Linked DNA regions of Homo sapiens: region 1 is reported to be linked to region 2. The links are microRNA targets in miRTarBase. Many come from high-throughput screens and were not tested one by one. Region 2 holds a microRNA gene; the other region holds the end of a gene's coding sequence.
What was found. Region 2 holds the annotated microRNA hsa-miR-128-1-5p (CGGGGCCGUAGCACUGUCUGAGA, at 2,133-2,155, opposite strand). A microRNA usually pairs through its seed, bases 2 to 8, with sites in the 3' UTR of a target mRNA and lowers its output. Matches are read on the target gene's strand: a 7mer-m8 pairs with bases 2 to 8, a 7mer-A1 pairs with bases 2 to 7 and ends in A, and an 8mer does both.

Region 1: the mRNA of TOR4A is a reported target of hsa-miR-128-1-5p. Seed matches in the 3' UTR shown: 7mer-A1 at 3,292-3,298, 7mer-m8 at 3,157-3,163, 7mer-m8 at 2,398-2,404 and 7mer-m8 at 2,186-2,192.

What each region holds. Positions count from the first base shown.
Region 1 is chr9:137,279,146-137,283,531 of GRCh38, reverse strand. TOR4A (torsin family 4 member A) reads right to left here. Exons shown (of 2, transcript NM_017723.3): 2 at 891-4,386. The coding sequence ends at 3,571. Among named protein-coding and RNA genes, the nearest start is that of TOR4A, 3.6 kb to the right of the region's middle. RefSeq lists a silencer at 2,341-2,580.
Region 2 is chr2:135,663,180-135,667,565 of GRCh38, reverse strand. MIR128-1 (microRNA 128-1) reads right to left here and starts at 2,169; the gene lies at 2,088-2,169. All of the region lies in intron 19 of R3HDM1 (R3H domain containing 1), which reads right to left. It overlaps LOC124907893 (a long non-coding RNA gene), which reads right to left. Exons shown (of 2, transcript XR_007087245.1): 1 at 1,009-4,386. RefSeq lists an enhancer at 2,752-2,851.

The DNA of each region.
Region 1 (4,386 bases), not on the chromosome of region 2:
AGGAGGTCGAGGCTGTAGTGAGCCACAATCACGCCATTGCATTCCAGCCTGAATGACAGAGAGAACCTGTCTCTATTAAAAGAAAAGAGAAGCCAGGCACGTTGGCTCACAACTGTAATGCCAGCATTTTGGGAGGCTGAGATGGGTAGATCACCTGAGGTCAGGAGTTCGAGACCAGCCTGGCCAACATAGTGAAACTGAGTCCCTACTAAAAATACAAAAATTAGCTGGGTGTGGTGGTGGGCGTCTGTAATTCCAGCTACTCAGGAGGCTGAGGCAGGAGAATTACTTGAACCCAGGAGGTGGAGGCTGCAGTGAGTGGAGATCACACCACTGCACTCCAGCCTGGGTGACAGAGCGAGACCTTGTCTCAAAAAAAAAAAAAAAAGTCATTATGATGTGCACACACAGATCACGAGGGTTACTACGTAATGACACATGGCAGATGTCAAAGAATAACTCAGAGACAACTGCACAGAAACAGTTTCTGCACATATGAGGGAGAGCAGCTATGACATTTGGGATCATCTGGTTAGCTGGCAACTTCCCGCATGTCCAGCCTGGGTCATCTGCCCTCAGCACCTGTCCAGGGCAATTAAAGAAAATACTTTAGTTATTTATGGATTTCCTGGAAAGCCCGGATGTTTGAGCTGCAGACTGCATGTGAGCCCCAATCCTTCCATCAGCCTCCAGGTCCACACCACTTCCCCATTCAGAAGTTTCTCAAAACAAAACAAAAAACAAAACTCTCGATCAGCATGTCCTATTAAATAGAAGCTTAGAGAGAAATGGATAAATCTACCATAAATCTACAATTAGGGAAAGATTTCAGCATCCTCCTCAATTATTAACAGACCAGACAGACAAGAAACAAACCAAACAGTAGGTCGTCAGATTTGAACCACACAATTTATTAACAAGCATGATTTGTGGCCTCGTTTATTACCAGCCCCCACCCCAGCACTTGGTGCACATTCTCCTTAAGCGCAGAATTTGGCCTCAAGGTAATATTTTAGGAATAAATAAAAAGAGGCCGGGCACGGTGGCTCACACCTGTAATCCCAGCACTTTGGGAGGCCGAGGTGGGCGGATCACGAGGTCAGGAGTTCGTGACTAGCCTGGCCAACATAGTGAATCACCGTCTCTACCAACAATACAAAAAAATTACCCGGGCGTGATGGCGGGCGCCTGTAATCCCAGCTACTCGGGAGGCTGAGGCAGGAGAATCGCTTGAACCCAGGAGGCAGAGGTTGCAGTGAACCGAGATCGTGTCATTGCACTCCAGCCTGGGCAACAAGAGCAAAACTCTGTGTCAAAAAAAAAAGAAAGAAAGAAAGAAAGAGATAAAATTTCCCCTTAGGTCTGGACCTTTTGATACAAGCCGATGCTCAGCGGGTGTTGTTGACTGACAGGTGGATGAATGGCCCACGCTTGCCGGCAGGTGACACCTCCAGGTGGGTGCTCTGTGGGAAGGGGAGCTGACAGTCCTGGGGGTCCTGCCTGGGGAGCAGTGGGCACCCCAACATTCACCCATGCAGGGACTGGCAAACACACCCCCACTCTGCAGCTCTCTCTGTTACCACCTTGAAGCCAACACGAAGGCCAGACCAGAGCTGGGTGTCCCTCTGTGTGGGCTCCTGGGACAGATACTCGCCTGGGAGAGGTGGGGCTCCTTCTCCCAGCTCCTTCCCCTAGCCCTGGGGTTGGGGTGGACAGAGCTGGGCTGAACTCAGCCCTGGTTCCCAGCGCTGGCTAGCCGGTCCTGCACAGCCCCAGGAGGCAAAGGTTTCCTGGTAGCCCCCACCCCCACCCCGTGGAGCCGGACCCCTCCCCAAGACTCCAGGAGCAGCGGGAGTCCTCAGGACCCTCTGGGCAGGACGGGGCAGCCCTCTCGCTAGCGCTCCCGCCCTGGGCCCAGGACCTGCGCGCCGAGCTCGAGCTCCGCGGAGCCGCTGCCATCCGCCCAGAGATCCCAGACTTTCAAGCGGCCTGAATCCCCGTCTCCACTAGACGGCCCTCGCCCCCGACCACAGACACCAACCACCAGGGCGAGAATGGATGCGAGGCGGGGGAGAGAACAGGACACCCTCCGGGAAGCCGCAGGACCTCTGCTCAGGGAACTAGCGGGGCCCCTCCGGGGACACCGGCGCTGGTGGGCGCGGTCTCCGGGCTGAGTTCAGGCCTCGGGGCCGGAGGAGTCCCACTTGCCAGGGGCGCCCGCCGTGTGCGCTCGACTCGGGGCTTCCGGCGCGGCCCCGCCTCCACCTTCGCGGTGCCCCCACCTCGACGGCGCCCCGCACCGGCGTGAAACCTCCTCGCTGCCCTCTGAGCCCCTTTCGGGACTGGTCATCGCCGCCCCTGCGCTCCTCCCGGGCAGGCCCGGGTTGGGACTGCAGCGGGGCCGGCGGCGGGGACAGAGGATCGGGGCGGCCTGGGGGACTCAGGGCCCAGCCGCGCGCTCAGCCCCCGGCGACCACAGAAGCCACCGGCTGGGCCGGGCGCGCCACAAGGCGGCAGCAGCGGGGCTGCCGGGTGCGTCCCAGACACCGGGGCTGTGGGAGGAGGCGAGAACCGTCCCGAGGCAACCGCCGGCCCCGAGGAGACATGGCGCAAAAAACGCCCAAAGCACCTTCCCCTAAAGCCCCCGTGGGCGCGGTGGGCCCATCCACGGGAGGCGTCCAGGAGGGCTTCCGGGAGGCGGCGCGTGGGGAGTGTGGGGTGTGGGGTCGACTGGCGTGGGGAGGGCGCTCTGCGCAGAGGGTGCGGGTGGGCGGAACTCGGGGCACAAAAGGCCCCAGGGAAAGGGAGGTCGCGCAATCGTGGTGACCAGGGGACTGGCCACGGGCTAAGGGTCCCACGTGCGGAGAAGAGGGGGATGGGGAGAGGCCTAGGCACCTCCCGCTTGCCCCGCGGGCTCTCGGTCACCCAGTAAGCCCAAGCCAGGGCTGGCGGGCCCGGGGTTGGGGGGTCCAGGAAGGAGGGGGAGAGGCTGCCTGAGGCGCCTCCGCCTCCGCTCCCCTCCCCTTACTGTCAAGACACTCCAGCCTTGAGCTCCTGAAAACACGACCTGAGTGAGGGGTGGGGTGGGTGGAGAAGGCAGCCAGAGCCCCAGCACTGTCATGGTTGGCTGTGGCCTCCTCCGGGGTCATCTCCAGGGGGGCCGGAATGAGAACCCCACTTCAGCACTGAGCAACACGCGACCACCCCCAAGAGGCGGGGTCACGTCCCAGCTGTGTGACCCCGGGAATTGTTGGCCCTGAGATCATCCTTGTACCATGGGAACCCACCTCTTGGGGCCACAGGGAGAACGCACCAGACCATGCCTGGGACGCCCAGCAGGGCAATGGGCAAGTTTGGGAGGGAGGTGGCTGCTGTCCTGCCGCCCCCAGGGACAGACTCCGGACTCTGAGGCGGGTGTGGACCTGGAAGCAGAGCTCCAAGCTGATCCGCACCCACCAGCCGGGCAGCCACAAATTCACTAGAAACCTCAGGGGCCTGCACCAGCCCACAAGGTCCCTGGTCGCCCTCCTACTGCCGCCATCAACCCAAACGTCCCGTCCTGCGCCTCCACTACAGGAGGTTCACCGTGGCCACCACCTGCTTGCAGCCGGTGACGGCAAACTCGCGGCCAGCCACGCGGTAGAAGCTGAGCTGCGCGGCCAGGTTCTCCGCGCGGGCCTGGTCAGGAAAGAAGCCCTCACCCGCCATCTCGTCCCGGAAGCAGCTGACCACATCCCGCTTGTCCAGCAGCAGAAACGGCACGATGGCCGCGGCCTGCCACAGCGGATGCTCCCGGGACAGCACAGCCAGCAGGCTGGCGCGCAGGTCTTCTTCCGCCTGCGCCGCTGCGGCCTCGGCACTGCGGAAGCCGTCGGGGCGCAGGGGCAGCGCGCGGGACGCGTTCTGCAGCACGAAGCGCGTGACCTCGGCGCCACCCGCGCCACTGAGGAGCACGTAGATGGCGTTGTGGAAGTGGTGGGAGCGCTGCGGCTGCAGGAAGCCGTGCAGCTCGTCCAGCAGCGGCCGCGGCATGAGCTCCACGTCGTCCAGCACCAAGAGTGGGGTCTTCTCCTCCGCTTCGGCCCGCGCCACCACGTCGGCCACGCGCCGCGCCAGCTCCTCGCGGCAGTCCTGTGCGGCGCGCGCCTCGGGGCAGTGGTGCCGCGCATGGTATTGCAGCACGAGCGCGCTGTCCTCCAGCACCGAGCGGAAGTGGCGCGCCAGCAGGCGGCCCACGTGGCTCTTGCCCACGCCACTGGGCCCGTGCAGCGCCAGGAGGAGCGGACGACTGTGCACATGCGTGGCCAGGTAGTCCCGCATCAGCGCCACGATGCGCGATACGGCAGCGGGCTGGCCGAACACCGCGCGCTGCAGCGCTTTCTCCAG
Region 2 (4,386 bases):
GTGATACATCTGAATTTAATCTGGAAAGTAGAGGAAAACACTATATCTTTTATAGGAATTTACGTCAATATTGTGGGAAAGCCTCTATTTTGTAAAGTAAGAAATGCCAATAGTAAGTGATACCAAACAACAAAATAAATATCCAGATCTCAACATAGATTTTTTTTTTTAAAACACTACCATTCTGTTTTGTTAAAGGACTGCACTGTTGCAATATTATCCCATTTCTTTCAGCACTTTCAGAGGAAAGCACAATCAATTCTGCAAGCTAAGAGAACTAGGACAATATAAACTGATGGTTCAGGAACTTCCCTGGAGGGCTCCACAGAATGTTCTATTTTTAACTCTCACTTTAACCAAGAAGAGAGCAGGAAGGAAATGCAGTGCTCAGCACAAAAGTATTGAACAGGCATTAACAGGCTGATTTTATTTTATATAGGTGATCTGAACTAGCATTTGTTCTAAAGGAAAGCATTCTTAATAACACAGAAATAATCAGAAAAATTACAAAAAGTATTAAAGAAATGCTTAGAATACCCATGAATCTAAGGTTATTTCACTTAATAGTACCTATTAATTTTTTTTCCAGACTGTGCTTGTACAATAGAAGCACTGTGAAGGTAGTTTTCTTTTTTTTTTTTTTTAAAGATGAGCCATTTTACTAAAGCCAAATTTATTTGTAACTAGGCATCTACAAGACCAAATTGTTAAAACCTCAAGCTTATAATCTTGGGCTTCTGTCTGTGGCACTATTTTAGTAGGTGGGCAAGTTCAACTAAAGCCAGCCCCATGGGTGTATTTGGAAGGAGATGCAATTGCCATCACACTTGATTATCCCTTCTCATCTCTCATCCCCTCTTCTCTCACTCCTGTGCCTGAAATAAACATATACATATACAAAAACCAATTCTAACAAAAACAGTCACACAGAGTTTATTGCTCACAGCTATTTAAAGAACTATTCCATGGAAGAGTCTATACAACTCAAGGAAATCTGTGGGTACTTACCAGATATATTTGGCTCCAGATTTCAGTGGCGGCAGGTTAATGGAGAAGGGAAAAGGGAAATAGGTGGATTTGTAGGTATTATACAATGTCTGAATCTATGCTGAATCACACAATACATACTAAGAAATGCTCACAGAAATCAATGAAAAAACAAGAATAGCCAGAGCCACTACCTAGTAATTTACAAATACAAAATTCCTATTACTTGGATTGAAAGTTGTCAGTAAAGAAATTGACTTTGTGCCTTGAGTCCCTATTTGACATAGCCGACTCTCCTATCAATAAGCCCCCTCACCTGCTTACCCAGTAGTGCTGACTTTTCTTTGCTCGCCTTTTACACCCTAGTTACTCTTAAATTTGTGCCTTCAAATTCTGTCAACAATATGCACACATTGAAGACTGTTTATCCTAACAAGTTTCTTCCATAGTGTCGTTCATCAGGATCCTACCATAGTCTGCTGGTAACAAAGCTTAATCAACTTGGAACCATATGATTCTGGGTTATCTGGAAAGCTAAGACTAAAGATATAATACATTGATAATCTTTGAAGTTATCAAATGGTTGCAAAACTAAAAGTATAGTTTCACAGAATCATTTTGCTTTCCACAGGTATGCAACAACATCATCGTTTGGAAAAAAAAATTAAATTATATCGTTGGTAAGAACCGAGACCAAGTAGCTTCAAATGCATTTAGGTGTATTAGGTCCGTTTGATGTCATGCTTTCATATATAACAATATCCCTAAAAAGTTGTGTAGCAATAGGGAGAGACATATTTGACTTCTGCTAATGAGTTTGGTATGCTTAAAACATTAAGCTTTTTAGATAAGCTCAAAACCAAACTGAATTTGTCATCCAAATCTACTTTGGAAAAGAAATAAGCAATAGCTTTCACAAATTTTTAACAGGTAAATTATATTAGGCCAAAGATGTCACTTAAATTCTAATCCCTATTTCTGAGTATGATGCATGATTTAAAGGTATTACAATTAATGAAAAATATAAACAAATGTTAACACCTTCATACAGCATTAAAAAAAGCAAAAAAGCAGTGGAAACCTGAGTAAAAAGAAGCCAGGAAGCAGCTGAAAAAGAGACCGGTTCACTGTGAGAAATGTAAACCTCTCAGACAGTGCTACGGCCCCGAATCCAACAGCTCAGGAACAAGGCCAATTATTGCAAAATATTAAATGTATATGGTGAAGCTACAAACTTGTCAAGAGTCATAAGAATAATAAAAGCTACACAGAAAACAGCTAGGGCTTTGTAAACCTAAAATCTTCACTATAATTACTACCTGCAGAAAGTTTCTTTATACTATACCACACTCCTTATATGCAGTGTACTTCACAGTATTCAAAGCATACATTTTATGATAAAGGTTTAAAGTAATAAATCTTTATTAGTGAAACTGGTAAGTAATCTGATCTTTTGAAATAGTTGCTTTCATTGACTCCAGTTATTGACAGTTGGTTGCCAAGCTGTTACAAACCAATTCTCTATTATTCTACCTTTTAGAACTAGAAATGACTCACATGAGACACAAAGAATTATGGAGTTTTACAGTACACAGAGGCTTCAACAGACAACACAGTAAAAATTCCATACTTTGCAAATGAGTCCAACTGAAACTCAGTGGCTTTAAGTGATATGCCTAACACCAGTTACAAATGACTAAGGGCCATCAGGATTCTGACTTTTATTTTGTTGTTCTTTCCCATTATACAGTGCATTGTTCAGAAAGTCTTATGTGTGTAGCCAGGGTTTCTTCTGTTTCTGTTGACAGGGGTTTACTCAACCTTGTTTTGAATGAACAGTTCAGTAGTTTCACATTCATAACAAAAGACTAGTACATTCATTTCCCCAGCAGTAATGTTAGTCCTGATTTCAGTTGTGGTCCACTGGGACACATGGATAAAAGACCTAGAGCATTTTATCCTTGAGATATTTCCCCATCCTCCTCCCTATCCACCAAAGGAAAAATAATGAAAGATCCTGTATTTCTACTGCCCATACCCTATCTGGTCTAAAAATACTTTGCTCAGTTGGGCTTGTTAATTTAGGGCAAAATTTCTTTAAGTTCAAATACAAACTTTTAAACATTACTTGTGCCACAGTGAAAAAAAATTGCTCCAAGTCTACTAGTGTTTTCATTATTTGGTTGAATAATTAGTTTCACCCTTTTATGTAATTAAAAAAAAACATGCTTCTTGACACTGTGGGGTAAGCAAGTGTTGTTTGACAAGAAATACAAATATAAGAGATATGAAAAAGTATTTCTCATTTTTAATCAGATTGGGATAGTAGAATGTAGAGAGGTAAGAAAATAAAAACCAAAAGGAAACCCAGAAGTATGTTTCCATATAAAAATGTAAATTATGAGACAGTAATTGCTATATACCTGTAAAAAAACTCAAAAACAATAAACTATCATGTTAATTTCCCAGTACATTTTACTTTTCTACACTAGGGCACATACAAACATAAATGCACACTTTTCTGTTAAGTTTTTTTTTTTTTTTTTTGAGACAGTCTCACTCTGTTGCCCAGGCTGGAGTGCAGTGGCGCCATCTCAGCTCACTGGAACCTCCGCCTCCTAGGTTCAAACGATTCTCCTGCCTCAGCCTCCCGAGTAGCTGGTATTACAGGTGTGCGCCACCATGCCCGGCTAATTTTTTTTGTGTATTTTTAAAGTAGACACAGGGTTTCACAATGTTGGCCAGGCTGGTCTGAAATTCCTGACCTCAGGTGATCCACCCGCCTTGGCCTCCCAGAGTGGTGGGATTACAGGTGTGAGCCACCGTGCCTGGCCTTCTGCAAGTTTTGACATAAAAATTAATGATGAGCTAACTATAAAAAAGTCTTTAGATTATAACTTTTAAAAAAGAGTTCAAATCCCCACTAATTCTATGAAAAGGTTCAATACAATTACCAACACAACAGTTGGCACTGGCCCTGCTGAACTTTTCTTTAAAGGAAAATTTTCTATGATACTTATTAGCATAACAAAATTCCTTTCTCTTTTAGATAAGAATGCTTTGAGGATTTATTCCTTTTATTCTTCAAACTGAATGAGTCAACTAACTTAAGCTGTAAGTTAAGAGGATACTATATAAAACAGCTGAAAGGACAAGTCTAGCTTTTATAAAGTGTTATATTATGACTGACTCATAAGAGTCAAACACAATGTCAAACATTTTTCAAAGACATGATTCTCTTTTTTGTGCCTGTAGCACTATCCAGATGCAACCTGATTTATTGTTTCCTCCTTCTCATCATAACTAGCATCAGAGAAAACCCCATAGTTAAAAATATGACCAATGATAAACACATGCTATCTGTCACATAGATGTTTTCACCTCCAATCAGGCATATTT